Linked DNA regions of Homo sapiens. The protein of the gene in region 5 interacts with the protein of the main gene of each other region in a biochemical or structural test. Each region holds a gene or a part of one and is shown on either strand. Other genes may lie near its edges.

Region 1 (6,430 bases), on a different chromosome or scaffold from region 5:
TGATCCACCCACCTCAGCCTCCTAAAGTGCTAGGATGACAGGTGTGAGCAACTACACCTGGGCTTTTTTTTTTTTTTTTTTTTAAATTGGGTCTATTACCTAGGCTGGAGTGCAGTGGCATGATCTCAGCTTACTGCAACCTCCGCCTCCTGGGCTCAAGCGATCCTCCCACCTCAGCCTCCAGAGCAGCTGGGACTACAAGTGCATGGCACCACATCCAGCTAATTTTCTTTCTTTTTTTTTTTTTTGAGATAGGGTCTCACTCTGTCATTTAGACTGGAGTGCAGTGGCACGATCTCTGCTCACTGCAACCTCTGCCTCCCAGGCTCAAGTGATTCTCCTGCCTCAGCCTCTGGAGTAACTGGGATTCCAGGCATGCACCACTACCGCCCAGCTAATTTTTGTATTTTTTAAAGTAGAGACGGGGTTTTACCATGTGGGCCAGGCTGGTCTCAAACTCCTGACCTCAAATGATCCACCTGCCTCAACCTGCCAAAGTGCTGGGATTACAGGCATGAGCCATCAGGCATGGCCTAATTTACTATTTTTTGGTAGAGATGGGGTTTCAACATGTTACCAGGCTGGTCTCGAACTAGTGGACTCAAGCAATCTGCCCACCTTGGCCTCCTAAAGTGTTGGGATCACAGGTGTGAGCCACCAAGCCCAGCCATACTCTTTACCCATAAATTCCTCTTTTAGGAATTACTGCTCCAGATACAGCTACACATTTACACAAAGCTTCATGTATAAGGATGTTTCTCCCTTCACATTGCTTGCATCAGTGAAAAACTGGAAACACAAATGTCCACCAATAGGGACTGACTTTGTTTTTTGAGATGGAGTTTCGCTCTTGTTGGAGTGCGATGGTGCGATCTCAGCCCACCACAATCTCCGCCTCCTGGGTTCAAGTATTCTCCTGCCTCAGCCTCCCAAGTAGCTGGGATTACAGGTATGTGCCCCCACGCCCAGCTGATTTTGCATTTTTAGTAGAGACGGGGTTTCTCCATGTTGGCCAGGCTGGCCTTGAACACCCAACCTCAGGTGATCCGCCTGCCTCGGCCTCCCAAAGTGCTGGGATTACAGGCGTGAGCCACCGTGCCTGGCCAGGGACTGACTTTTTAAAAAATATAAAAAATGTTAAAAACATGCAAACAAATAAAAAAAGAAAAGAAAAAAGTTAAGGTACATTTACATAAAGAAATACTCTGCAACCATTAGAAATGAGGTAGTTTGTTATTTGTGGAAATGGAAAATCTCCAAAATGTACAAAATGAAAAAAAAAAAAAAGGTGAATTACTGTATAGGATACTCACTTTTATGTTAACAAAAATATATATATACACACAACCATGTAAATACCGGGACATATAAGAGATAGTCAGAAAATCTCCTAAGAAGCTGTCCTGTTGCTGATGGCTAGCTCCAGCAAGCCGGAGCAGGGGCCTACAGTGGGAAATTCATATTCTGTGGTATACCCTTTCAACCATTTAAATTTTTAAAAGTTTACCAGGTCATGTTTTATTTATATAACAATAAAATCTAATCAGGATAGCCATAAATGCTATATCAGAATTAATCACTGTGAAATAAACCAGTGAAATATGATAAGTGGATACAAGTCTAGCCCAAAGCTACCTGACATTAGGTAGTCCATGGAGCCTCATTAGGATGTAATTCTGGAAATATTTAAGAGTTCATAGATTATCACATTTTCTACTTTCACAGACCGTAGAAGGTTGGGAAACCTGCCGGGCACGGTGGCTCACACCTGTAATCCCAGCACTTTGGGAGACCGAGGCAGGCAGATCAGTTGAGATCAGGAGTTCAAGACCAGCCTGGCCAACATGGTGAAACCCAATCTCTACGAAAAATACAAAAATTAGCTGTGCATGGTGGCACACACTTGTAATCCCAGCCACTTGCTAGGCTGAGGTGGGAGGATCGCTTGAATCTGGGAGGTGGACGTTGCAGTGAGCCAAGATAGCACCACTGCACTCCAGCCTGGGCAACAAAGCGAGACTCCGTCTCAAAAAAAAAAAAAAAAAAAAAAAGGTTGGGAAACCCTAGGCTGCAAATGTCTAATGTTGGCTAATCCTTTGTGCATTTTCCATATAGATAAGTCCTAGCTTAAGTAACCAAAAACTAGTTTTAAAAAAAACAAGGCATGTATCATGTCTCCATCCCCCAAGACCACGCTCCTTTCAGCCTGAGGCAAGTCAAAAAGCCCCGTCAAAACAACCAAAGATACCTACTTTTGGAATTCCCACTCTCTGTTGTCCAATGGACACACCTGTCGTGTTTTGAGCCAGCGAGAGATGCAGTGGAAGTGAAAAGCATGCTGAAAGAAAACATATATTTTATTAAAAATAACTCTATGCAGGCTCAGCCATCGAGCGACAACAGGTCCCACAGGGTAGTGGCATGGGTGACATATAGTGGGCAAGAAAAGAAAAGAAGACAACGAGAGGCAAAAGTTCAACAACTGATTATATCTTGGTTAGATGCAAGGGTATTTCCAACAAAGCATTTGTTAGAAATGTCATTACTACTAAAGGAAATCATTCAGGAAGCACAGGAGTATGTGCCAGCACTGAGCTCTCTTCTATTTAAGAGAACGTGGAATGTGGCTCCTTGGTCCCATTCAGCCTGTAAGGGGATACTTCCACTTTCTTTGGGAAAGGAGGCCCCTCATCAATGCAGATTTCAAATATCCCCATTCTGGGTCTCTAGCTTCCCTCCCACCCTCCTGCCCCTGGAGAATGCGACCTGTAGGAGCAGAGCCTTCTCCCCAGCCCTTGGTAGAGAAGTGCATGGTCACTGCCGCCCACCCAGAACTGAGACGGGCACTTCCCCAACCTCCCCACACCCAGCTCAGCTCTGGTCAAAGAAACTTTATTTCTAGATTTATTCACAGACATATTGATATTACAAGAGCTCAGTACTTCACGTGCCTTTAATGGGTGAGGGACTTTGTCTTAGGGAATGAGATAAAAGAAAATTGGGGTAAAAGGAAGTATTCTTATGAGGGACAAACGGCACACAAGCAGCCTAAAGAGCATCAAAAGGCTTATTTCATAATCAAGACAAGAAGTAAAAAGACAAGAGTATCAAGAACACTGGTAACTGACAGGGAGCTAGAAGTCTGCTTAGATTTGGGAAAAGGACAATCTGCATGCAGTTTTTTGGCGTGGGCTCATGACATGCAGATGCTAATCACAATGCTTCTGCAATGAGCACTTCTCCCCCTGCTCATGTGCGTATTAGGACAGACGCAGCAAGTGCTTCCTTCATTTCGTCTGTGATTGGTGCACTGTGGTGGGGCACGGGCAGAAATTACTCACCCTAACAAAACAACAAAAGCTTTACAAGCTTCATTTAATAACAACTGAAATCTGGTCGGTACGTCTCCCAAAGTATGTATGGAACTTAAGGGATTATATAATATGGATTATTATCTTGTGAAATGTTTTTTGACAAAGACAAAAATATAATTCAGTAACTAAGAGTGGAATCCACAGCTAGTACACTAGGGATACCCAAGAGGACAAATATTCTCTTAGAGTGACAGCCTTTTGGAAGATCCCTTTTCAGCTGACTCTTGTATAACTCACTGTGAAAAAGAGAAAGAGCAAAATTTCCAAAAGGCAGAAAGCAGAGACATTTTTCTTAACCATCAGGTGTTGGGGTCGGGCTCACCGAAGGGTATTCGACAGCTTCTCCCTCTCCCACCTCACCCACTGAGCACTTTGCAGCAGTACGGTGTCCTGGTAGAGCCCAACTAAGTCAGAGCATACCACGCGCTGGGGAAAAGGGGGCTGTAAAGGAGGTGTCAGGGAGGTGACAGCACCCCTGAACATTTACTAAGATGTATTAATGGATATATTTAGCGGTCAAAGTACAATTTACAGAAGATAAATTTATAGTACTTGACAGTTTACAGAAGATGTTGACATGTATTACCTCATTTGAGGCCTCACATCAACCCTGGCAGGCAAGCATGACAGATATTTTTATCTTCATTTTACAGACAGGAAACTGAAACCCAGACAAGTGACTTGCCTAATTCATGGAGCTGGTTTGTAGAAGACCCAGAACTAGAACCCAGGACTAATCCAGAGCCTTCTGCCACACCATGCTGGCTCTCTTCTACGGCAGGCTCTCTCAGAGAATCTCTCCTTAGCCAAATTTAAGGGGATGTTCACTCTCTTTTCTTTCCACATAAAGGAACATGGTTCTTAGTATATGTCTGTATGCCAGAAAGGGCAAAGAGCCCAATATACTTCCTTTATCCCCATGAACGATTAAAGCTCCCCCATGGCCAACATGGTCTATTGTGAGCCTGGCCAAAGGGTCCCAACAAAGATGGAAGAAGGTGTACCCGAAAGTGCGGGTAGGGGCTGGGCACGGTGGCTCACGCCTGTAATCCCAGCACTTTGGGAGGCCGAGGCTGGCAGATCGCCCCAAGGTCAGGAGTTTAAGACCAGCCTGGCCAACATGGCGAAACCCCATCTCTACTAAAAATACAAAAATTAGCTGGGTGTGGTGGTACACACCTGTAATCCCAGCTACTCGGAAGGCTGAAGCAGGACAATCACTTGAACCCAGGAGATAAAGGTTGCAGTAAGCCGGGACTGCGTCACTGCGCTCCAGCCTGGGCCACATAGTGAGACTCCGTCTCAAAAAAAAAACAAAAAACAAAAAACAAAAAAAAAAACAAAAAACCAGTGTAGGTAGGAAAAAGAGTTGCAACCCAACAGGAAAAACTACTGAGAACACCATCTACACAGTAACACCTCTACCTCAAATTTGTATTTATTTAGATTTTTTTTTTTTTGAGACAGAGTCTCACTTTGTCACCCAGGCTGGAGTGCAGTGGTGTGGTCTCGGCTCACTACAAGCTCCACCTCCCAGGTTCACGCCATTCTCCTGCCTCAGCCTCCCGAGTAGCTGGGACTACAGGCGCCTGCCACCACACCCGGCTAATTTTTTGTATTTTTAGTAGAGACGGGGTTTCACTGTGTTAGCCAGGATGTCTCCATCTGCTGACCTCATGATGCACCCGCCTCGGCCTCCCAGAGTGCTGGGATTACAGGCGTGAGCCACCGCGTCCGGCCTATTTAGATTTTTTTTAACAAGCACTTGTGCTTACTATGTGCCGGGAGTTGTTTAATCACATTTTAACATAAATCATCTAATCCGGATTACAATTTTATGTGGTCCACTATCAGCCCCATTTTATGAGGGAACCCAGGATTGGAGACGTTAAATGCCTTGCCTAACGTCACTTAGCAAGTAAGTCACAAAGACAGGGAATGGTGGTCTGACTCTAGAATCTCTTATCCCTGTGTCATGCTGGGAACTGTGAGTATTCTGTCCCCATGACACAGGAGGCCCTGACAAGACAATTTTAGCTCATGTGACTGGGACTTTACAGCTTAAAGAATGAATTTTTAACACATGCTAGAACTAACATATTTGATATTTGTTATCCTTCACAGCTGTCACACTCTTGGAAGGCCATTCAGTCCAATAAAGCTACACAAAACATTTCTGGCATAAGCCATGTTAAAAAATAATCTTATCTCAGTACATACGCCACACTTAAAACACACATACACAGAGACTTCAACACTCAATTTACTCATCAAACTTAGTTCCATTAGACACCTGGTCTTTAAAAAAGCCTGTTTCAAAGGTACAAAGTTCTACCACGAGAATATTCCAAAGGGTGCATGTAGGTTTTGAAGGCAATTCCCATAGATGAAGCCCCAAAATACTGCTAACAAAATTGGGTCCACTTTATAATTAAGACAAATAAGTGCCTCTTTGCAGTAACTGTAATTTTTACCCTGTAACAGGTGAATAGTATTATGATTTAAAATCTTTTTTACTATTTGTATACCTTTTGGGAGAAAGGTGGACTAGTCATTTTTTTCCCTAGTTATTTTCAAGACTAGCAAAGCAGGAAAAGTGGAAATATGTTTACAAGCCATGCTGACAGGTAAAGATGCTTCCTTACGTTACAGACTCCCCATGCGACAGTACACTCTTCTGAAGTAGCGGACGCCTGGTTAGCTTGACATTCTATGCCTGTGGGAACAAGAGCAACAGGATCACTGGACCTTGGGAGCAGCAACGTTTCAATCTATAGCAGCCAAAACAATTCTCAAGTGGTTAATTAGCCATAATTGTTTTTTAATGAATGTGGGAAAGGAAGAACAGAGAAGACAGAGATAACAGTATGCTTTCTGACGATTTCCTATCCTTGTTTAAAAAGAGTAACAAATGGGAAATGCACATCTCACTCCCGTTGCCCAGGCTACAGTGCAGTGGCATGAGCATGGCTCACTGCAGCCTTGACTTCCTGGGCTTAGGTGATTCTCCCTCAGCCTCCTGAGTAGCTGGGACTACAGGTGCGTGCCACCACACC
Region 2 (6,430 bases), on a different chromosome or scaffold from region 5:
TTTTCCTAGGATTAGCAAAAGTACATTATGTTTATATGCTAACATGAGTGATTCAGGAGAGGTGGAAAAATTGAAGACTCGAGAGAAAGGGTATGTCACTGCCAAAGTAACCTTCTTAAGTTGACAGTAGGGGATGGAATACAGAGGACAAGTAGAAGTAATGGCCTTAGAAAAGGGCAAGGACAATTCATCTTTTATGAACAAACAGAAAAGTACAAGGATAAATTATGTAGCCTAGTGGTTTTGCTGGTGAGGCAATAAAGCAGCTCTCTTTTGGATTCTATTTTCTTAGGGAAGCAAGATTATAAACTGACAGTAAGGTGGGAAGAGAGTGTTAGAAAATTATCAAGACAGAAAACAAGAAACAGTCATTTTAAAGATTGACAAAGTGATTTTATTAGGACCTATGGTAGAACTGCAGGGCAGCCTACTTAATAGCAGTGGTTATAAATTTTAAGAACAGCCCACACTGCTATCTATCTTTTCTAGGTCTATTACACGGGAGATAGTTGTCATGTACCCAGGTACTCTCCTTCCTATTTTCCAGTACTCTCCTTCCTATTTTCCAGTCAAATACTACCAAATCCTTCATCCAATCCTCCTGAGCCATGGTTTCTAAGACTCATACATCTTGGTCACCTTTCTCTGGTCCAGTTAACAAATCTGCCAATCTTTCTTGAAATGCTGTGCCACAAACAGAATGGCCCTTTGTAGATGTGATTGGCACATAAAACGGGATTACTACCTTAGCCATTTTAGACACAATAACATATGTATATTACATAAATTGACAGATGTGGCTAACATTAAGCTCTAATCAAAAGCTATACTATTTCCTGCCCTTGCACTGAAATACAACATACCTGACTTAAATACCTAACATCTAGTCCAATTCTTGAATCATATGTGAATTGACGTTTTCCAAATCATGCCAACTCACAGCAAACTCTTCTTTTCTGGAGGGTTTATTATTTGCACCGCTTATTTGGCATTGCTTTGAACTATTTTTTGTTTTTCTTTTGCTTATGTCTCATTTCTCCAGTTGGAATGTCAGCACTAAAAGTGATAAGTATAGCACTAGAACAAAAACTAGTACACTTTTAGGGTCCTCCACAGTGTCATTACACTCTCTCTCTCTCTCTCTCTCTCTCTCTCTGTGTGTGTGTGTATATATATATATATATATATATATATATATATATAATATTTATTAGCTGACTTCCCAGTATTTTTCCCTATGGCTTCAGAAACTCTTTTAAAAAATACATACTTTCATTCCTACCTTTTTTTTTGGAGATGGAGTTTCGCTCTGTTGCCCAGGATGGAGTGCAATGGCATAATCTCAGTTCACTGCAACCTCCACCTCCTGGGTTCAAGCAATTCTCCTGCCTCAGCCTCCCGAGTAGCTGAGACTACAGGCACATCACACCCGGCTAAGTTTTGTATTTTTAGTAGATGGAGTTTTACTATGTTGGCCAGGCTGGTCTCGAACTCCTGACCTCAGGTGATCTGTCAACCTCGGCCTCTCAAAGTGTTGGGATTACAGGCATGAGCCACTGCACCCAGCCTATTCCTAAAATTCTTATAAAAATTTACACTCTATACTTAAAATTATCTCATACATACTTGGTGGGTCAGCATTTTCTTCTCCAGTGGTATCTGAAGTTGACAACAGCTATGAAACAAGAGAAAAGTTAATAGGTAAAAGCAGATATCCCCAACAATCTGAAAAGAACAACACTAAAATAAGCTTACTTTAAGTAAATGTATATGTTCTTTTGAGAACTGAGTGATTTATGACCTTTGCTTTGCTTTCTTTTACCCTAATCACATAGATTTCCTTAAATTTCATGTCATCCCAAATTAGAAATCAAGTATTTCTCTAGTTTCAGGAAAGTAGAAAAATGTATCAGTGGTTTCTCATTTCATTTGGAAAATAAGATTTTAACTGGGTTACTCTCCAAGGGTCTCAGCTCCTAACAAGTTATTTTTTGTTTGTTTTTCTGGAAAACAGCAAAGAGACACTAAAGATCCTTCTCCAATCCCATCACAAATTTGTACAGTGGCAGCATAAATGATTTTTCAAAATAGTAAAAACAAAAAAACAATCTTTTTTAAAAAGCCCTCAAAAATCAAGTTGGTTACAAAAGTAAAAACCAAAGATGTCATTAACATGGATGAAAGTATGTACCTACAATTAATAAAAGAGAAATAAGCATAACTTCTAATATAGGTTGGTACAAAAGTGATCACGGTTTTGGCCATGACTTTCAATGGCAAAAATCATGATCACTTTTATACCAACCTAATAATATTTTTGTTATTATAAAGCAGAATTCAATGTTGTTAATTTTAAAAATGTATTTACCTGTTCAAGAAGATGAGGATATCTACCTTGAATCTCATCAACAAACTCTTGGCCTTTCATTCGTATCAAGAACTCACACCTAAAACATATGAGGAAAATTATTTTTTAAAATTGTTTCATATCAAATATAACCTGATCATTCTAGAAAAATGGCTTTCAAATCTTTCATTGTACTCCATAGTAAAAACATTTTACGTCACAACCCAGAACACATACATATCTAACAGGAACAAAATTATCATAAAACAATATACATCCTTCTGTGTGTTATATATCACGGTATTTTCTAATTCAATCCATTAACACAACAACAAAAAGAAAAGCGTCTGCACCTACAAAGGGGAACAAGTTGACTCCTGAAGAACACTATTATACACAATCTATTTTGTGCTTAAAGTGAACTACTTAACAGTTTCAGATACTATTAACTCAGTATTCCTAAAATGTGATCTTTCACAATACAATAACTGCTCATTTTTCTTCAATGTTCACTCTTCCATTACATTTGAGCCAGAATCCACTACCTTCCCTCCAAAAAATATGGAATCAAATATTTTTATCTATATATAATATGACAGTGTTTCTCAAATATTTGTTTTTAAACTGATAGGGCTTCTCAAAGATGTTCCAAGAAGTTCACATACCATCTATATCTATTCTATTCCTTTTGTTTCTTCAATAAATGATACTATACAACAGAATATTCATATGTTAAAAAAAAGGAACACTGACCTATGCCCATATTATATGCAAAAATAGTAAAAATGGATCATATACCTAAATATAAAACCAAAAACAATAAAACTTCTAGGAAAAAGCCTTGTCTTTATTTGTCTTTACATTGGGTAAAGAATTATTAGACAAAAGACCAAAAACATATTCCACAAAAGATAAAATTGATAAATTGACATCATCAAAATTGAAAACATCTGCTCTTCAAAAGACAATGTTAAAGAAATGAAAAGCCGCAGACTGAAAGTTTGCAAGAGTGACATCAGCAAGACAGCAGACTAGGAGACATCAGCCTTCTTCCACCCACAAAAAACAACAAACAGACAGCTATACACAAATACAGCTCTGGAAGAACTCACTAGCCCAATCAGCCTACAGCAATAAAGGGAAAAAAAAAAAAAAGGGAGAATAACCACACAGAAAGGACTGCTGGGAGATCTGCTTAGCAGAGACATCTGGAGATGGCTAAGAACAAGGGGTGAGGGCTACCTGTATCAGTCATGTGGTGAGTGCCATTACAGTCCTCAGTGGCAAAGACTGCTAGGCTCCTCCCCAGAGCAGGTCCCTGGAGACCTCCAATAACCCTCAAGATAGCCACAGACTTCCTGCAGGTTTCACAGTGAAGGACCCTATAGTGTTCATTGATGCCAACCCCAGTAGCCTACTTTGCAGAGGACACTGACAGCTTTCACCATTAAGGTAACCAGCACCCATTGCTGCTGTGAACCCCCTGGAGAGGGAGACACTACTGCACTCCTCACCCTGAAAAAAAGCAGCTCTTGCACTGCCCAGACAGTGCAGCCCCTAACCCCCACATATGCCCCAGACCCCAGAGCCACAGCTGCTTCACATGTACCTTCATGTAAGACCTTTGCTCTGTGGCTGCTCTAATCACACACTCTCCAGATCCCAGCTCTCTGGCTGCTCTGCACACCTGCACTCCGCACCCAACTCAAAGGCTGCTCTACGTGCACCCACATCTGAGGCACTAGAAGCACCACTGCTGCAGGCTAGTCAACATCCTGAACCCAAGACCCGCTGTCTTTCTGCAAACACTTGCACTCCAAACCTTGGCTCTGTAGCTGCTCCACAGGTGTCCACGCCATCAGAGACATCAGTGCTGCCACCTCCACCAACACAACAAGCCCAAAGCCAGAACCTGTGCCAAGAAGAATCCCCTTGGCCACAATGTCTCCCATGGGAGAAAAAGTGATGAAGAGGTCCCCAGCAGCCTCTGCCACTATAGACTAAAAAAAGCCTTGCTGCTGGTATGGATACCTGCAGCCTTGGATGTTGAGGACCCCTGCAATCCTCACTGACAATGATCTGGGCTAATGGAGCTGCATGGAGTTCACAATGCTGGGCCTTCCACAGAGCCAGAACCACCACACCTACTGGCTGGCGCCCTCACCCTCACCCTCACCCACAGGCAAAGATCTTTGCCCACAAAAAAAAAAACAAAAAAAACACACTAATCTGTAATGTCTAGAAGTAATTCGTCCATCAAATACACAGATAACACAAGGCCACAAGAAACAGAAAGAAAAAAAAAAAAAGAAACGTGACATTAGCAAAGAAACTCAGTAATTTTCCAGTAATCACCCACAAAGAAATGGAGATCTATGAACTAACAGATAAAGAATTCAAAATAATTGTTTCAAGCAAACTCAGTGAGCTACAAAAGAACACAGATAATGAAATAAAAAAATATATACAAACAAATGAGAAATTCAACACAGAGATAGGAATAATAAAAAGAAACAAATTCGGGAGCTGAAGAACATAACAACAAAAAATGCAATAGAGAGCATCAATAGCAGACCTGATCAAGCAGAAGAACCTGTGAACTCAAAGGCAGATCATGTGAAATTATCTAGTCAGAGGAGAAAAAAAGAAAAAAAAAAGAATAGTGGAGAAAGCCTACCTGAATTATAGGACACCATCAAGCAAAACAATATTTGCATTTTAAGAATTCAAGGCCAGGCACGATGGCTCACACCTGTAATCCAGCACTTTGGGAGGTTGAGGCGGGTGGATCACATGAAGTCAGGGGTTCAAGACCAGCCTGGCCAACATGGCAAAACCCCGTCTCTACTAAAAATACAAAAATTAGCTGGGCATGGTGGTGCACACCTGTAGTCCCAGCTACGTGGGAGGCTGAGGCAGGAGAATCACTTGAACCTGGGAGGTGGAGGTTGCAGTGAGCTGAGATCATGCCACTGCACTCCAGCCTGGGTGACAGAACAAGACACCATCAAAAAAAAAAACCCAAGAAAATGAAAAACAAACCCGAGAATTCAAGAAGGAAAAGAGAGAAAGGACAGAAAGCTGATTTAAAAAAAAAATGCTGAAAACTTCATAAATCTAGGGAAAGATATCCAGGTACAGGAAGTTCATAGGACCCCATAAAGATTCAACCCAAAGAAGACTTCACTGACACACATTATAATGAACTGGCAAAAATAGAAGATGAAAGAGAATTTTAAAACTGTAACAGAAAAGAAACTCATCTTCTACAAGAGAAACCCTATAAGACCACAAGTGGATTTCTCTGCAAAAACCTTGTAGGCCAGGAGAGAGTTGGATGATATATTCAAAGTGCTGAAAGACAAAACTACCAGACAAGAATATGTATCCCAGCAAAGCTGTCCTTCAGAAATGAAAGAGATATAAACAGTCCCAGACAAACAAAAGCTGAGGGAGTTTATCACCACTGGACGCGCCTTACAAGAAACGCTGAAGAGTTCTCCAAGCTGAAATGAAAGGACACTAATTAGCAACATGGAAACATATGAAAGTATGAAACTCACTGTTAAGATAAATATATAATCAAATTAATAATATACTAAATTTGTAATGGTCATGTGTAAATTACTTAATTCTAAAATACAGGTTTTTAAAAAAAAGTATTAAAAATAACTATAGCTTCAATAATTTTTTCATGAATACACAATATAAAATGCAAATAATGACATCAAAAACATAAAATATGTGCAGGAGGGTCTGAGTAACAGTACAGTTTTTTAATGCAATTGAAATTAAGTTGTTAGTGCTTGAAACAGACTACTATAACTATAAGATGTTCTATGTAAACCTCATGATAGCCACAAAGTAGAAACCAATAGTAGATGCACAAAAGATATAAAGGAATCAAAGCATACCACCACAGAAAATCATCTAAACACAAGGGAAGACAGCAAGAGAGGAAGAAACAAATAATCTGCCAAACAATCAGAAAACAATTACAAAATGACAGAAGTCTTTACCCATCAATAGTTACCTTGAATGTAAATGGGCCAAATTCTCCTATCAAAAGATAAAGAGCAGCTG
Region 3 (5,066 bases), on a different chromosome or scaffold from region 5:
GGCCAGACATCTGTTCTTTCGTCTAACACCTGCTATTTTTTCAGGTAACAGCACCCAGGATTGATGCAGACTCCCCCAACCACCACCAGGATGCTGGCACACAGACAAGCAGGATCCTTTCAAAGCCCAAATTGGGCCACGTCCCTCCTCTGCTCAGAATCCTCCCCTGGATCCCACCTCCACTTACCGTAAAATGAGTTGGCTCCCTGACCCCTCCCACCTCAGGATCTTTGCGCAGGCTCTTCCACAGCAGAGGGCACTCTAGTCCCTCATATCCTTGAGGTCTTTGCAGAACTCAGGCCTTCCTTAACCATTGTCATCAATACTACAAACCATTCTCCCTGACACCCCGACTTCCCTTGTCTGGTTTTAGTTGTTTCCTTTGAGGAGCACTCATCACCAACATTAACTATATACCTCACGATCGTATTGTGTCTATTGTTTGCTGTCCGTTCCCCTCTCCCTCCAGGAATCTTGTTTTATTCCTTGGTATATCCCCAATACCTAAAACAGTACTAAAACTATCTGGTGAATAAATGAAATAAATGAAAGGGGGAATAAATCCTGGGTAAGCAAAAACGACACTGCTCCTTACAGAAAGCTTCTCAGAGAACCCTGCATAACCAACCCAGTTTCCATATGTGCAGAGAAGTGTAAGCCTAGGAGACTGAAACTACAACCCTTGGAAAGGCCTGCTTCCAAGGTCGGCTCCTTGGCTGGTGTCTGGGAACTTGGAATTCAGGAAGGTTCCCACCGCTCCCTACCTGGTATCAGTGGTTCACTGTGCCTAAACCGTTCATGCAAACAATACAGTTTACGCTGAACACCTTTCCTTCTGGGAGTCTGGAAATTTTGTTATGTGCCAGGAAGGGGGCGCCTACATGACCAGCCCCAAGTAAAAGAGGTGGTGCTGAGTCTAACAAGCTTCCCTGGTTGGCAACATTTCATGTCTTGTTACACCTTGTTGCTGTTATTTCTGTAGTTACTGTTGCTACTGGGGAAATAAAGGCCGCCTTGTTTAACTCCCGCTGGGAGAAGACTCCTAGAAACTTGCACCAGCCTTTTCCCTTTGCTGATTTTGGTCTGTATCCTTTTGCTGTAATAAATTGTAGCCACAAGCACGACTATATGCTGAGTCCTGTAAGTACTCTAGGTGAATTGAGCTTGAGAGTAGTTTTGAGGACCCCAGACACACTGTCCCAACCAGCACTAAAAAGAGGTTAAGGCAAAAAAAAAAAAAAAAAAAAAAAAAAAACAGAAGCTGAGGGAAAGAAAGGCCAAAAAGAAGGGCTTCTGGCAGAGGCAGAAAGATCTCTGACAGAAAGAATGGGAACAAGAAAAAGGAGGGGTGAGGTGTGGTGGCTCACGCCTGTAATACCAACACTTTGGGAGGCTGAAGCAGGCAGATCACCTGAGGTCGGGAATTCGAGACCAGCCTGACCAACATGGAGAAACCCTGTCTCTACTTAAAATGCAAAATCAGCCGGGCGTGGTGGCGCATGCCTGTAGTCCCAGCTACTCAGGAGGCTGAGGCAGGAGAATCGCTTGAACCCAGGAGGCAGAGGTTGTGGTGGGCCAGAGATCACGCCACTGCACTACAGCCTGGGCAACAAGAGCGAAACTCCGTCTCAAAAAAAAAAAAAAAAAGAAAAAGGAGGAAAGTGAGACGACAAAGCCCCAACCTCCTACCCTACTCACCGTGACATCCCAGGGCCGGAAAAGAAACTGTCGATTCAGATTTGACTTCTCAATGGTGTCCATGTCTGTAACGATGATTTCTCCACCCTCCCCGCAGCCCAGCCCAATCATGGCAAAGTTCTTGAGCAGCTCACAGCCAATGGCCCCCGCACCCACCTAAGAAGCAACCAAGAAGACAGGCAGAGGCTGGTCAGGGTGATGCAGGTTAGTGTGAAGCTACCCATCACCCCTCACTCCCCTGAGAGACGGGGAGAGGGGCTAACACCACATCTTCAGGTTGCAGGACTCTAAGAAATGACACGCAGTCATGTGAGGAAGGAGGCACCAGAAGGGGAAACGAGGGATGCACTGGGCTTCCCTTCAAGATAAGGAGAATGGCAAAGAGAATGCGCCACCGGTTGCATTGAGATGCCGAAGGAAGCCCCAGGGGTGATGGCCAGAGGCCAAGATGAGGGGAGCAGACATCCAAGGGGACCACTTACCAGGAAATACTTCTGCTTGCCCAGCTTCTCTTGCAGGTCTGAGCCAAACACAGCCACTTGCCCGTCATAACGGTTCTGGCGCTAAGGAATGCAAAGGGAGGAGGGTTAGAGAGGCCTCCCCAGAAATGTCCCCAATGATGCCCTCCCCACAGGTCCCACCCACATACCTGGAGGCACTTGTCCTCTGTGAGGACCTCTTTGTCCTCAGGGAGACACTCAAGGGCATCAAAGTATAGCCACTGCATGATGGGCATGAACTTCCCGGAGCAGGCCTGGAGAGGGGAAGGGAGAGAGGGGGTGGTCAGTGGTTAACAGGGGCCTGACACAGACAGAGAGCAAGTGACAGAGTCATGGAGGAACCTGGCCCACCCCAATCCTGCCTCTCCCCACCCGTGCTGACCTTCATGACTTCCTGGGCAGCCAGGCCCCCAATGAAGGCGTTTATGGGTGCCAGATCCCCAGCAGCCACATATGCCAGCTTCCGGATGAGGTCCTCGTCCAGGTTATTTTGCTGCACTGCTGGCAGGGCTCGAGCATTCACAGCCTGTGCTAAGGCTACCAGTTCTGCTGCATCCTCCTGGTGGGCCAGAAAGAACCAAGAGAGGATATGTCAGGCCACAGTGAGGGCAGGGAGTGTGGACACGCAGAGAGGCATGGTGAGCCTGCAGTGCCAGGCATGTCTGCGCTGGCTGGCTCGCCCACTCACCCACCTCATTGCGGGGCCGAGGTGGCCGGCCATGCTGAGCACAGAACTGGTGCAGGGCCTGGAAGCCAATGTGCAGCTGGGCAGGGCGAGAAAACTTGGCGAAGTCCGTCACCACAAAGTCAGGTTCTGCCAGTGAGGCCACCAAGGATTTCTGTGGCGGGGGGAGAGGTCATCAGAACCAGAAGAGAGGAATGGAGAACTAGGGAATGCCTAGAACCACCCCCCACAGCCCACTGATCCCATCGACACACTCACAAAGCTAATCTTCTTAGGTACTTTGACCTGACTGACGATGCCTCCACGGATGTAGTCGGAGAAGTTGGAGGTGTCACAGATGCTAAAGGTATAAGGACCTACAGAGGGCAGGAAGAGAGCTGTCAGTCTACCCATTCTCCCTAAAATCCACAACCCCTGCAAGATAAGGAACCTCCTGCCCCGACTCAGCTCAGACATCAGAAGCTGTCTTCCCTCAGCTCCAGGCTCCACTTGGACATCAGAAACCATCTCTCCTGTGCCCCAGACTCAGCTCAGACCCCGTGAGACCCTGTGTCCCTGGCTCCAAGTCTACACGGGAAGACCTTCTCTGCTTCCCATCCAAATCAGCTCACACACAAGTAGATCCGCTGATCTGCCCTGTTCAAACACCAGAGACTTTTTCCCCACTCAGCTCAGATACCAGGGACACATTCTCCCAGGAATAGCTCAAACACAGTACCTCTCCCCCATGCCCACCAGCTCTTATTGGACCCCACAGGATTGTCTGTAGTTCATCTCAAACACCAGGATGTGTCTTCCCAACTCTGAACCAAGGGCCATGTCTTCTCCCTTCAACTCCCCGGCCAGAACCCAGGAACATATCTTCTAGTTCCCCTCTGCTTCCCCCATGGTCGCAGCTCACCCAGGACTTTGATCTCCATGGGCTGATTTCCGTTGAGTTCAACCATGCCCTGTACTTCTGAAAAGGAGACAAAGTCCCCGCTCTCAAACCCGTGTCGGGCCTCATCCAGGCAGGTAACCACACCGGGGTTGTCCTGGTTAAAGGAAGAGTGAGTCTCAGAAACAGGCCCAGGGTACCAAGAGCAGACAGGAAGGACTACTGCAGCCCACCTGCCTGCCAGGAACCCTAGGGCTGGTCTCCTTACCTTGGTAACCATAGAAACCATAGCACTGAGTGGCTGCTCCCCATTGGAATCTGTGAGGATCATTTCCTCTCCAAAGTCACAGAAGAGCTGCCTGTAGAGGGAAGCAATAGGGCTGGTGCCTGTGTCCCATGCACATACAGGTCCCACGGGTCCCTCAAGATGTAGTGAAAACTTGCTGAGCAAACTCAGCCTATCACTGCTGGGATGTAAGATGGTACTTGTGCCACATGGGGAGAGATGAAAACACAGAACCCAAAACCTGGGTAGCTGAGAAGGGATGAGGGCAGGGAGAGCCTAGAGTCTTGGCCTGGGCTTGGTAGGAGTTGGGGGAAAAGGGGACAGGGAGGGAGGTGGGCTGCCACTCACCCAAACAGGCCCCGCGTGTCTGCCACCACCAGCTTGATGCCACGGTTGTGACAGAACTCACCCACTCGCAGCTGGTCCTCCAGGGGGGTGTTGGTGAGCACCACCACCTGTGGAGAGATGGAGGCTCAGGCCCAGCATTGGGGTGAAGGGGAAAAAATGGAGGGCTGGTGTGGAGGACTCAGGCAGTCCTCAAGGCAAACACATCCAGGCTTTGCTGGGTCAGCCTCTTTCACAAACACATAGCACCTACTGTGTATCAGACTCTGTGGGGGTCGAAAATGAACCCCTGGACTATACCAGGAAAGGTGAAGAGGTAGCTGGGAGGAGGGAGTTTGGAGAAGAGCTGACTCATTTATTTGACAAACACCCGCTGCTGTCTGTCTGCCATGCCCTGTGAGACACTGGAGTAAAACTCTGTCTCCAGCCAAAGTCTGAGCTCACTCCTACCACACCCACCTGCTTCCAATTCTCAAGACGACGCCTGCTCCGCCATGATCTTTGGGATTTTGCTCTCTGCCTGAATGTCCATCCTTCCCCACCAGGGTGAGCTCCTACTCCTCCATCAGGATTTAGCTGCAGTGCCCTGGCAACCTGGGATACTCCAGGGACAACTCTCAGCTTCCAGAGCACCTCTTTCCGGCCTGGACTTTTTAATTAACAAACACCCATCCA
Region 4 (6,430 bases), on a different chromosome or scaffold from region 5:
ATAAGGATTCAAGTGAGAATATCGACTTCAGAAGTTAAACACAATGGACTGGGAGGTCTCATGAGATGGGTGGGTCCGCAGTGAAGTGTGAGCCGGTCTTGCAGGGTCACCAACAAGGTTTTCCTCTCACAGGGGTTTCAGGTCAAACCAATCTCTAAAGGTGACGCCTCAGGTCTGTTTCCCCTGGGGTGTCTCAATGATTGGAGGAGGAGAAAAATACTTCCTGTGTTATATTTTTCTCTTCCCCTTCAGCCCCCACAGCGAGCTGTATTTCAGTTGTCAAGTACAAAACTCAGAAATGTGGTATGGGTGGAACTATTGGAATATACGATCAGATGTTTTAAAAGAAACACCAGTACTTCGGGGTTGTACGGGGCAAGCATGTTCCATTTCTAGATTTTAAGGCCTCTAGAATTGTTTTCCTGCTGCTCTCATACTCAACCCTGTTACAGTGCTTTGCTTTCTACTGTAAGTTATTGCTCTGGGATCTCGGTTGTTGTTTAGTGTTGACTGTTGGAGAGGGGATAAGTATCTTCAACACTTCAACATTTGTGTCTTAGACTTCTCTTTCCCTACTCATAACTGAAGGGAAAGGAGGAGGAGGAGTTGTTTGGATTGAGCATGGCTCTGACCTTGGGGACTGGAGTTGGGTGAATACAGTTTGACCACAGTTAACCTGTATCATTGAGGAAGTGACAGACGGTCTTTACAGGAGTGTTTGCTGTCCCCTCTGAGACACCATCTGCCTTCACCCATTAGTAGTTTGGGGACACTGGCTGTTCATTCTCTTGGATATTTGGAATATTATGTAAAGACTTCAGAACAAAAGCTCCCAACTTCTGCTCTGTATTCTGTTTAATAGACACACGCACAAAATCATCCTATAAAATGCTTTTGAGTGGCAATTCAGATTTCTCTTGTAACTAACGAGAGAGAGGTTTACATATTTTTCTACTTTGAATAGTTTTGGAAGGAAAAATCCAGCAGCGTGTTAAATAACACTCATAGTTTATCCCTCTCAGGTTAGAAGTGGGCGAAGAGTGAAGTCAGTCTGTTTTGACAGGCAGCCTGCTCCCAGATCTTTTAAGTTGACTCAACTGTTAAATTGTGGATTTCCCACACACGTCTTTGTGTTAAAACTTAATAATGGAGGAAGAAAGGAGAGACAAGGCATTTGGAGACTGACAGCAGTGTTAACAGCACTTCCATATCCAAATATTGGCTGAGACATAATTACAGCTGTGGGGGGAATCTGGTTCAAAGAACGCTGTTCCAGAGACACACACCAAAGAGATTTCTAGATCTTGAATTTTGATTAACCTCAGGTGCTGAGTAGTGAAATGGTTTTCAAAACCAGAAGTCTAGTGATTATAAAGCAGGAGAGGAAGATGGAGTGGGGCAAGAGGGATTACCCCCTTGGGAAGGTGCCTGAGAAAAGGGGAGGAGACCTCTATTCTACAGTGTGCCGAGGCCAATGCTGGGGGCTAGGGCAGAGCTGGAGGGCAGGAGCCCAGCCTCTGCTGGGGTTCAGAAGTCTGCTATGTTGCAGCCCTGAGAGTTGATGGGAGCTGGCAGCTGCTTAGATGCTCTCCTCTCTGCCTATAGTCGGTGACCTCTTAGCCCTGTTAAGTGAAATCAGCATTTGAAAAAGAGTCCCAGCTCACCCTGCTGCTTCTCTCCCTCCACCTCAGAGAGCTCCCATTTAAATGCTTTTGGTGGGTGCTTTGACCTCACCTCACCATCTCTCCTGGCTGCTTTTGCTAAGTTCTGAGTCATGCTTCCAGTCAGAGTTGCAAGGGACTTGAAAGGTCATTTTGTCCAGCCCCCTTATTTTGCAGAAGAGAAAACCAAGGCCCAGAGTGAGGGAGTGACTTGTTCAAGGTACCATAGCCATTCACTTGGCAGAGGCAGGATTGGAACCCAGGTTGCCTGACTCCCAGTCTCAGGCTTCTTCCCACTTACTTCCTAACTGAGCCACGGGCTCAGGCACATGGCCACCTGCTGCTCCAGGGTGCTTCCAGCCTGAGGAGCTGTTCTGTCACCTCAGGCCCTGACTGACAAGAGGGGAGGTCAGCGAAGGGGGCTGGATGGGTATTTGCTGCTCCTGAGAACAGTCCCCAAAGTTGGAGGGGAACTTCAACAGTAGCTTCATGCATTTTTTTAACCACTCCCTCCCCCTTTTAAGAGAGTATTTGATAGGCACCTTACTTACTATTTTTTGTACAAGAACATGGGAATTCTATTATTTTTATTTTTATTTTTTTTGAGACAGAGTGTTGCTCTGTCGCCCAGGTTAGAGTGCAGTAGCACGATCTTGGCTCACTGCAAGCTCTGCTTCCCAGGTCCACGCCATTCTGCCTCAGCCTCCTGAGTAGCTGGGACTACAGGCGCCCGTCACCATGCCCGGCTAATTTTTTGTATTTTTAGTAGAGATGGGGTTTCACTGTGTTATTCAGGATGGTCTTGATCTCCTGACCTCGTGATCTGCCTGCCTCAGCCTGCCTAAGTGCTGGGATTACAGGTGTGAGCTACCGCGCCCGGCCTGTATTACTTCTTTGATAAGGACACCTAGTCTCAACCCACTTGTGTATTAATTAGTTGTATTCCCCGGGAGGGTTCCTCAGCTGCTTGCCGCTTCACTGTGTCATGGTGACCCTTAGGTGTTAGCTCAACAAATTTAATTAAAGACTGTATCGTTGTTCTCTGCTGTGCAACTCTGATTAGGTGAAGCATGTTACTGCTTTATAAAATATAGAATGTTGTCGTAACTTATCTCTGTGTATCTTTCCATTGCGTGGATTAGAGAAAACAAGGTCCTGTAGTTTCTTTTCCTTTCCTTTCTCCAGCATTCCTCTCTCCCTAGGTCATGGAAGTGCCACTGCGATGTGGCTTCCTTTGTTCTGGTGAAGGGGAGATGATTGGAGCCTCTCATGATTATTCTGGATGCTGTTGGAGGGAAATGCCAGAGCTCCCACATCCCCACAGTACAGGCACCATCTCCTTTCCAACACACCTCATACTGTGTACCTGTGGAGGGCAAGACAGTTAGTGTGGCTAGGTGAGAGGCAGTGTCCCAAACTGGAGTTTGCTGGAGTTGTCACAAGGTTAGGAAAATTTCATTGACCAAGCCAGCCTCTTTTATATGCAATATGGTTACAGGTAGGTAACAGTTTGCTGAATATCTATCATAAGCTTAGTTGCATGGAGGATACACATGTAAAAAATGGCCTGTAAAATTTTGAGTCAAGAAACTTATTTAGAGAAGGTGAAATTAACACATGTAGGCTAGGGCTGCACTGTCCAATCTGGTAGCCACTACCCTCACATAGCTAATTAAATTAAAATTAATTAACATGAATGGATTAAACTAAATTAAATTTGAAAAATCAGTTGCTAGCCACACTTCAAGTGTTCAGTAAACATGTGGCTAATGGCTATCGAATTGAACAATGCAGAAGAACATTTTCATCCTTGCAGAACGTTCTCCTAGACTTTGTTGGTCTGGGAGCTAAATCGTGTGGCTGGGAATAGAGGAGCTTTGAAAGAGGGGAATCTGTGGTGACTCCAGGAGCTAAGGGAGGCTCCAGCTGGGGTCAGTGGGACATGGCTGTGCCTCTGAGGAGTGAGCAAGTCTGTGAGAGGTGTGGTGACATTGGCCTGGCTAGAACTGAGGGGAGGAACAGGAGGTCAGAGTGGTCAGGGGTTGGTGGCTCCAAATTGAAGCTAACTCATCTTGTGTCAAAGCAGGCTTTAAAGTGTTTGAGGGGCATGAAGGTGTCAAAAAAGGTTAGGAATCATTGAAGATGGGCTTACAGAATTATGAGGGAAGGGTCAGGTTTGTGGTTTCAGAGATCCTGTCCCTCCTGGCCGTAGCCCTGACCCCAGCCCTGACCCCTGGCTCCTGCAGCAGGGCCCTTGGCATCCACTGAGGCAAGATTGAAGCTGGGTCAGCTCACTGTCCTTTTTTACTTGTGAATTCTGGGCTTTGACTGAGCTTGGAGACAATCTCCAGCTAAGATACGGGATCAGTGGCTGACAGGAGGGGAGAGACAAGCAGTCCCTGGGCCTTAGGGCCAAATATTGGTGGGTGTCTAGGAAACAAAAGAACCCCTTTGTGGGAGGAGGAAGGTATTGGGACCTGTGATGTTTCTGCTACTTGGGACCTGAGAGGTTGGGCCATCCATAATTGATGATTTTTCTTATGAAGCAGGTACAGGGGATTGGGAGGAGGGCCTGGAAGAGCCCAGCCTCAGAACTGCTGGAGGCAAACTTAATCCTTGGGCTAGGGGAGGGGCCAAAGCTCCTGTTAGCCAGAGCCCAGGAGTGTGCTGAGTGGGTGCCAGGAGGAATGTCAGCCAAGATGGGGAAGAGCAGGGCACAGTCGTCTGCATCTGAGCCATTGCCCAGTTCCCAAGCAGCCTTGCCATGCTCTGAGCTGGGGTTCTTCCTGGTGGCGTGATGTCTGTGGTGCAGGATTCACTCTATTCTCCTACCTTTCCTCTACTTCAGGCCCTGCCAAGTGTCATGTGAGGTCTCTTTTCCCCCTCTTCCCTGCACTGTATCTTTCCAGATGGTTCTGTGTCCTGGAGGGAGGTGGATGGGCAGAGAAGAGTTGTTCTTTGCAGGGACTGCAGCTTTTCTTGGTAATGGTTTGAGGCCCAGTGGCAAAGCAACCCACACTTCATAGTAACTTAGAACCCACACTCCCTGGTCATCTTTCTTGACTCCTTGCACATCACTGAGGAAGAAGCTGGCCTAGTGCAGAAATGTTCAGTGGCATGTCCAAGGTCTTACATGGTGTCAGCATCCGAGCCACATCTTGAGACCTGGTTCCCTGGGACCTGCTCTTGGTCTGGGCCCCTTTGGTTTTTGGTTGCTAGAAGACTGTAGACCTGGTGGAGCAAAACTGAGCTCCACTAACGCATCAGCTAGGATCTTTCCACATGGGTTACCTTGTAAATGGGGGCATTGGTGAAGAGAAGGGGCCATGTCACTGGACAGTGTAATAACGTATGGCAGTTATAGAACCCAAATCAGATTGCTGTGTACCTTTTCTAGTTTTTAGGAAAATACTGGTATTTTGTATTTTAAGATATATATATATATATATATATACACACATACACAGATATAGATATGTAGAGATGAGCTTGTTACCATGGGTTATGTGCTAGATAAGAAAGCAAAAATAAGTGCATACATAAATAGAAAGCTTCCAGTGTTTGTATGCTGCTAACAAGTTACATGACCTTGAATAGGTCAGCTAAACTTTCCAGGCCTCATTGCACAGAGGGTCGGCTCGAGCAGCTCCTGAGCACCGGCAGGGTGAGGCAGTAGAAGGCGGTGCTGCAGGCCAGAGGTGGAGGGCAGGCAGGATAGCTTGCTGACTTGCTCCGGGTCTGACCATCAGCAGTATCTGGGTCAGCACAGATGCCCTTTCGTAAGCTTAGTGCCTGGCTCCAGGGCAGCCTGTGTCCAGTTAATGAATAATCATCACTGACCAGCTGCTCCTTCTCTTGTGTGAAGACTTAGAAAGTGTTCTATGCTGGTGACTCGGCAGAGAGGATAGACTACGTAATTTAGCAGGGTGTGCATCTTCTCTTTCCTTAAAATCAGAAGAATCATAGTGTAGTGGTGGTGCAAAGTAGAGATGAGGAACTCTATTCCCTGTTTGAGATTCCTTTCTCAAGTTATGGGGCATTTGAGGGCCACTGTGATTTCTGGTGCAGGCTGTTCCCTGTGCACAGGGATCTGGTTGAGGAGCTAAGCGAAGGCTGAAGTCCAGCCACTGTCTCCTTGCTTGGCTTTGTCTTTGTGTGTGGCTGGGTTCTTTCAAAGGAGTGCCTTCTAATTCACCAAAGGTATGGTTATGGATTAGGGGTTGTTCTTAGGTTAGAGTTGGGGACTGATTCACAGAGCTGATGAGGAAATTAGGATTTACATTCAGGTGACCCTCAGCCCCTCAGACCAGGCTGAGTAAGAAGAGATATCAGGAATCCAAGGAAGCAGGAGGAAAAGGGGTTGCCTGGTGATGTCTGTTCTCTTTCCTCCTCTTCCTGCCCATGCAAGGCTAGAGCAGCTGTTTCAGCCCCGGAGGTTTAGACTGTGGGGTCCTGTGTGCTGGGCCATCAGGTTTGGTGGGAGGAGGAAGAAAGCCACAGTAGAAGGAGACATAAAGTTGGGCTGGGCCTCTGGCAGTGAAAGGTTCTTGGGGTCTTTATTGTCTGATCAGTAAACACCTCTGTGTGCCAGAATGAGCTGGGACAAGGCCCCAAGGTCAGCCCATATTTGTATCTGGTGTTCTCCTCCAAGACCAGCCAAGCTGTGCGCTCATTCTGCTGGGAACCTGAGCCCTCCAAAAGGGTCATATGAAAGGGCATCTTATTCTTGAGGGACGTTTCCAAGCATCTCTGTGGCCAGTGTCCATCCA
Region 5 (6,430 bases):
AACTTTTTAATTAGCTGGGTGCAGTGGCATGTGCCTATAGTCCCAGCTACTCAGGAGGCTGAGGTGGGAGGATAGCTTGAGCCCAGGAGTTTGAGGCTACAGTGAGCTATGATCGTGCTACTGCGCTCCAGCCTGGGCAACAGAGAAAGACCGTGTCTCTTAAAAAAAAAAAAAAGTTTTCCTTCACATGAAGAAAAGATGTGTAAATTTGGAGAGAAAGAGAGAAAATCTGAGATATAAACAGTAATAATAATGCTAACACTTATTGAGTATTCTGTGTCAGGCTCTATTCTAAGAGCTATACAATAAGATCTTGATACTTTTCATCCCACATAAACTCAATGAGGTAGGTATCATTATTCTCATTGTAAAGATGAGAAAACTGAGGAAGAGAGTGTAAGAAAGGTGGGAAGTTAAAGGAGACAATATGATTACAAGGTACAATAACATTAGCTACCCTTTAGTGAGTACTTATGAAGTGCCAGATGTGTATGCCCAGCACTTGGCATATATTAATTCATTGAATCCTAACAACCATGATATGACATTTATGCATTCAGTTGTATCATTTTTACTTCTCAGATGCATCAGCTTCCTAGGAATTATTTTGGAGGAAAAAAATTGTAGTCCCAGGGCCTGGACCCCAAAAGCAAAATTATACTGTTCTATTATTTCTTAATGAAAATGATTTGCTTACTATATTTTGCAGCTACCAGGAAGAGTGAAGCCACAAGCACTCTAAAAATCCAAAATTCTTACCGTTAGGAGAATAATGCTTGGTGGTTTCATGGGATACTCTGGTGGCAGTACTATCCGCCCGTGATAAACTCCTCCATCAAAATCGGAGTCTGGGGGCCCTCTAACCGTGAAGTGCCATTCAAAAAGGTTATCCTGAACAAAAACAATAATCCACAAGGAATTAATAATATTGAAAAGTTTGATCATTTTATCTGAATATTAGAAATATTACCAAGCAAGAAAAATTAAATGCTTTATATTATTGCTAGTATAGTTTCTAATGCATGAGATGTCTCGAGACTATAAGTGATAAATTAAATTTATAAGTAAAAGCTATTTAATCTAGCTTTCATGTTCCATTGAGCTAAAATATTTTATAATAAACACATTAAAAATTTCTGAGTGTTGTTATATATTCATAAGTAACTTACAGGTTTAAATTGGAAATTAATCCTTGAAAGAATAGCAAATTATGATAATTATATAATCAAAAAATTACTATGTTTGGGTTATTTTAACAAATCTTTAAAAATTATCCCTTATAGATGCCTAAGAGCTTATTTATAAAATGGTAATACTAATGTATTTAATGTCATCTTACAGTTACCATGTACTTTTCAGTTTACAAAATACTTGCACTTAAGTTATGATATTTTTATTCCCACTGTTACCATGAAAACCTGCCTGGGTATATTTAAATACCCTCCTTTTACAAATGAGAAGACTGAGAGAGGCCGAGATGTTTATACAAAAAGCCTTGAGTAGCTACGGAGACCCATCAAAAGGCTTCCAAACTGTAAAGTATCTGGGGTTCTTTCCACCTCCCCTCCCTCAGACTCAAGATCTAACCTCGGCCGGGTGCAGTGGCTCACGCCTGTAATCCCAGCACTTTGGGAGGCCAAGGCGGGTGGATCACGAGGTCAGGAGTTTGAGACCAGCCTGACCAACATGGTGAAACCCTGTCTCTACTAAAAATACAAAAATTAGCCGGGCGTGGTGGTGGGGGCCTGTAATCCCAGCTATTCAGGAGGCTGAGGCAGGAGAATTGCTTGAACCTGGGAGGTAGAGGTTGCAGTGAGCCGAGATCACATCACTGCACTCCAGCCTGGGCAACACAGTGAGACTCCGCCTCAAAAAAAAAAAAAAAAAAAAAAAGATCTAACCTCAACTTAGCATCTGAGACCCATTTTATAAAGACCACAAAATCCGTTTCTTCTAAAGTGATTTGGAATGGCTAATGAAATATTCATGAAATATGGTGAATAAAACGTCAAACTACATCACACACATCTGTAATGACTCAAAGCAATGAAAAGCAATTTTAAAAAATTTGTTTTAAATATTAAAATCCATATGAAGAACATGGAGATAGAAACTAACCTCTAAAGGCTGCGCATGGTAATGATCTGTTGGATCTTTCAATTCTGCCGCTTCTTTCATTAAACGTTTAACAGCTAAAATAAAATTCATAAAATAGAGATATTTAAAATATACTTTTCTGAATGATTAGCACAGTCTTACGAGCCTAATGAAAAAATGTGTAGAGAACTAGTGCAAATGAGCATATGGCAAAGGTTTAATTATAAGATTATGGGAATAAATAGAGGGGGAGAGGAAGGAAACAGTTGCTAGGCATTAACACTTTAAAAGAGTTATATATTAAATATATAGTGAAGACACTATTTTTATTTAATAAGTACTTATATATACTTCCTATATGGTGGTATTTATTGAAGTGCTTTTACAGACATTAATAACTCATTTAACCCTTAATACAACATTACTAGATAGGTATTATTTTTATCCCCATTTTCCAGATGAAGAAGCCGAGACACGGAGAGATTATATAGTCACACAGCTAGTAAATGACAGAGATGGGATTCCAACACAGGCAATTTGGCTCTACCTGTTAAAATGTCTTTATTAACAAAAAATGTATTCTCTGGATCTCATGCTCGGTGAACAGGAAACACCTCTATATCCTCCAACTCTTGGGACTTTCCATCCACTATCTTGCATTAAATGAATGGACTGTCCCCTGAATTCACTGACTCTCCAAAGCCCCGATGAAATTCCTTCTTGAAATGATCCTTCAGCTTCACTAAAACCTCCAGTCCACTGACCCCACAACTTTCTTCACCCCTCCTATACTTATATTCATTTTCCTCTTTATCCACACCCTTGGCTCTTAGGAGTCCCTCTTGTACACTCCCTTAATAAAATCCAACTGTGCCTGACCCAACCCAACCATCTTATTTGCTGTCTATACCCAAACAGCTGAGCATCACTGAAAGGAGGAAAAAAAGTCAGAGAGGATGGTGCAGTAATGCCATTACAAGTCATTACCAACAACCTCTACTGGGATACAATGCCACCTAATGTCCCCACATTTCTCTAGTAGGCCTTCCAGCCTACTCTTTCCACCTAGCACTCCAAGATTATTTCCCACCTAGTCTAATTTCTCCTCTCTTTCAGTTAATGGCACCCAGCTTTTTATCTCCCTGATGAATGACTGCTAGCAGGAGCTGCTCAGATGCCTATCACAATCTACAATCCTATCTGTATCTGCACCCTCTGTCTTCTATTGGCTCTCAAAATTCAATCCTTTGATATGCACTCTGGATCCCAACCCCTCTCATTTCAAGCTTTTGGTGCTAAAACATGTCAGGATACTGCAGTGGGATGGCTGAGTTAGGGAAAAGGCTTCTCAAAACTGGGTTTGCAACCACTGATGTAGCTCAAAAGAGAGGTATGCACCAGATGCTGGGAGGACAGGCTGGGCATCTAACTTTAGAGCAAATGGAAGAGAAAAGGAGTCAGGTACTGAATGTGAAAGAAATAACAGTAGAAACTCCCCAGGTAGATATGAATAGGAAGAGGTAATAATAAAAGTAAAATGTGTAGAGGCACAGGTTGGAATGTTATGGGGAGAGAGATTAACTGAGAAGGAACCCCTACATGTATATAACCACAATGGTTTGGTATGTATCAAGACTTTTGCATAAAATTGCATTTGAGGCCAGGCGTGGTGGCTCATGCCTGTAATCCTAGCACTTTGGGAGACCGAGGCGAGTGGATCACCTGAGGTCAAGAGTTCGAGACTAGCCTGGCCAACATGGTGAAACCCTGTCTCTACTAAAAATACAAAAATTAGCCAGGCATGGTGGCGGACGCCTGTAATCCCAGCTACTCGGGAGGCTGAGGCAGGAGAATCGCTTGCACCCAGGAGGTGGAGGTTGCAGTGAGCTGAGGTCGTGCCATTGCACTCCAGCCTGGGCTTCAGAGAGAGACTATCTCAATAAAACAAACAAACAAACAAACAAAACCAGGCACGGTGGCTTAGGCCTGTAATCCCAGCACTTTGGGAGGCCGAGGCAGGTGGATCACCTGAGGTCAGGAGTTTGAAACCAGCCTGACCAGCATAGTGAAACCCCATCTCTACTAAAAATACAAAATTAGCCTGGTGTGATGGCACATGCCTATAATCCCAGCTACTAGGGAGGCTGAGGCAGGAGAATCGCTTAAACCCAGGAAGTGGAGGCTGCAGTGAGCTGAGATCGTGCTGTTGCACTCCAGCCTGGGCAACAAGAGCGAAACTACGTCTAAAAAAAAAAAAAAAAGCCCTCCAGGCCGGAGGGCAGTGGTACGAACACAGCTCACTCACTGAAGCCTCAACCTCCCAAGCTCATGCAGTCCTCCCACCTTGGCCTCCCCAATAGCTGAGACCACAGGCATGCACCACCATGCCTGGCTAATTTTTAAATTTTTTGTAGAGCTGGGGTCCCCCTGTCTTGCCCAGGCTGGTCTCGGGCAATCCTCCTACCTCAGCCTTCCAAAGTGCTGAGATTACAGGCGGGAATCAGCATGCCTGGCCAAAAAAAAGTTGTTACTATCCTACTTCACAATTATTAATATTCTTTTCCATTTCTTACTCTGAACTAAGCCCCTATATGCAGAGACTTTGTTCACTGGATCATCAACTATTTCTTGAGTTCCTACTAGGTACTAGATGCTACAGCTTCATGCGTAAACAAAATATGGCTTTGGTCACTAAAGACTGACGGCTGGGAGGTGCAGTCAATACAAAACAGAATGATAAATGCTATATTAGAAATATGTACATACTGAGACACCCTCTCCCTCCAAGTCTAGAGACTGGGCTTTGGTCAATTCCCTGAACACACTTTACCTCCCCTCCACTCTCAGCCTTTCTATACAGCTTTCCTCAGGGCCCAGGCTGCTCCGGCCCCATCCTCCGCCTCACCGTCTAGTCTGGCTACCCTAGACCTTTAAGTAACTTCTCAGGAATGTCTCTATGACACCTTCCCTGGTTGCCCCCTGCCCCCCACCCCCTACAGTGCTTGGAGATTTCAATCTGGGCAGATCAAAATCTCTGAGGCGTCCTAGGGAGGGGTAGAGACTAGGAATGCTCTCTGAATTACTCTGGTTAGGTTTAGAAACCACTGCCCTAGAGACCAGGTTGAGTCTCCTTGCTCTATGCCATCATAACACTGTATTTTTCCTCTTATGAAGTTCATCTCACTTGTAATTACTTGTTTAATATCTGTTTTTCCTGCTAAGCAATAGTAATGACAGTGTAGCTGTAGCAGTACAGTCTCCTCAGGGCTTAGCACATGGTAAGTACTCAAATATTAGTTGAATTAAATTTTACTATCTTCTCTCAACATAGCTCTCAGAATCCGATTAAAGGCAATGGTTTTTAAACTTACTTAATAAAACAATTAAACTTATTTAATAAAACAAAATCCTTCATTCAAAGAAAGCTTAATGAGAACCCCAACAGGTGAAACAAAAACCACAGAGCCGCTTTGGTTGCAGAGGCCAGTGGAAGGGCCTGCGGACTATCTACTCCCTGTCCTTCCATTTCACTCCTGAAGGGACCCATAGAACAAAGATGGAAAACCCTGCTTTAAAGCCACATAAACATATCATTCCTTTAAGTTAATATTATTAGATAGAAATGCAATTATGGAAGCTGTTATGAAGTTAATTAGTTTGGAGATGCCAAAAAGATTGTTTTTCCTTCATTCCTCGTCAACTGGCTGAACTCAATAATGATTAAGCTGAAGTCAGATTTTATGTCATTCTATACCCTTATCGCATTTTCTCTGCCTCTTCCCTACTCAGTTCAGTTCAACAGGAGAGAAGAAAATAAACACTCAAAACTTGTACCTGGATATTATGAGAGATGTATAAAGGGTCAGAATTGTTATAAGAATGTATCTGTACCAATCCTGTAAAGGAACAATCATTGGTTCAACAGCTAAATAGCTAATTAGTTCATAAGTCACTCAGGCACATACCATGTAAGAGCTAAGGTCATGTAGCCAAAAGGTGAGATTAGTCTCTTGTTTCCATAAGCTATTTTTTTTGCAAAAATAACATATATTATGAATGCTTCAGTGAAAAGAAACAGGGACTCGATTTAGAGCTGCATTAAAATTCTGACTCTGACATTTTGTAGCTCTAAGTCCTTGAACAAGTCACTTGATCTGATGTTTACATCTGTCAAATAAGAGTCAATAATTTCTCCACAAAATTCTCCTTTCCTTTTCACCCCTCCTTCCTGCCCAGTCCCTGAGTCATTAAGGTTGAAAATGGACTGGTATATAAGGCCTTCTCAATGATTCTTCCTAACTCAAAACCATGCCTCAGCAGATTTCGCTGGCCT

The links.
Region 1: the proteins of UBE2J1 (region 5) and RBX1 form a complex in vitro, tested with the Homo sapiens proteins (one study listed by BioGRID).
Region 2: the proteins of UBE2J1 (region 5) and BIRC2 form a complex in vitro, tested with the Homo sapiens proteins (one study listed by BioGRID).
Region 3: the proteins of UBE2J1 (region 5) and UBA1 form a complex in vitro, tested with the Homo sapiens proteins (2 studies listed by BioGRID, with this or other methods).
Region 4: of the proteins of UBE2J1 (region 5) and MAPKAPK2, one has a biochemical effect on the other in vitro, tested with the Homo sapiens proteins (one study listed by BioGRID).

What each region holds. Positions count from the first base shown.
Region 1 is NC_000022.11:40,963,707-40,970,136, reverse strand, and holds part of RBX1 (E3 ubiquitin-protein ligase RBX1), read right to left. Parts: intron 6,091-6,430; coding exon 6,020-6,090; intron 2,339-6,019; coding exon 2,253-2,338; intron 1-2,252. UniProt on the Homo sapiens protein: E3 ubiquitin ligase component of multiple cullin-RING-based E3 ubiquitin-protein ligase (CRLs) complexes which mediate the ubiquitination and subsequent proteasomal degradation of target proteins, including proteins involved in cell cycle progression, signal transduction, transcription and transcription-coupled nucleotide excision repair.
Region 2 is NC_000011.10:102,358,913-102,365,342, reverse strand, and holds part of BIRC2 (baculoviral IAP repeat-containing protein 2), read right to left. Parts: intron 2,448-6,430; coding exon 2,369-2,447; intron 1,676-2,368; coding exon 1,627-1,675; intron 1-1,626. UniProt on the Homo sapiens protein: Multi-functional protein which regulates not only caspases and apoptosis, but also modulates inflammatory signaling and immunity, mitogenic kinase signaling, and cell proliferation, as well as cell invasion and metastasis.
Region 3 is NC_000023.11:47,200,329-47,205,394, reverse strand, and holds part of UBA1 (ubiquitin-like modifier-activating enzyme 1), read right to left. Parts: intron 4,502-5,066; coding exon 4,395-4,501; intron 4,120-4,394; coding exon 4,029-4,119; intron 3,918-4,028; coding exon 3,785-3,917; intron 3,240-3,784; coding exon 3,142-3,239; intron 3,038-3,141; coding exon 2,891-3,037; intron 2,758-2,890; coding exon 2,581-2,757; intron 2,453-2,580; coding exon 2,348-2,452; intron 2,262-2,347; coding exon 2,181-2,261; intron 1,855-2,180; coding exon 1,699-1,854; intron 1,128-1,698; exon of another isoform or gene 1-1,127. UniProt on the Homo sapiens protein: Catalyzes the first step in ubiquitin conjugation to mark cellular proteins for degradation through the ubiquitin-proteasome system.
Region 4 is NC_000001.11:206,686,391-206,692,820, forward strand, and holds part of MAPKAPK2 (MAP kinase-activated protein kinase 2), read left to right. Parts: intron 1-6,430. UniProt on the Homo sapiens protein: Stress-activated serine/threonine-protein kinase involved in cytokine production, endocytosis, reorganization of the cytoskeleton, cell migration, cell cycle control, chromatin remodeling, DNA damage response and transcriptional regulation.
Region 5 is NC_000006.12:89,341,565-89,347,994, forward strand, and holds part of UBE2J1 (ubiquitin-conjugating enzyme E2 J1), read right to left. Parts: intron 2,193-6,430; coding exon 2,119-2,192; intron 892-2,118; coding exon 760-891; intron 1-759. UniProt on the Homo sapiens protein: Catalyzes the covalent attachment of ubiquitin to other proteins. Functions in the selective degradation of misfolded membrane proteins from the endoplasmic reticulum (ERAD) and is essential for cells to recover from ER stress.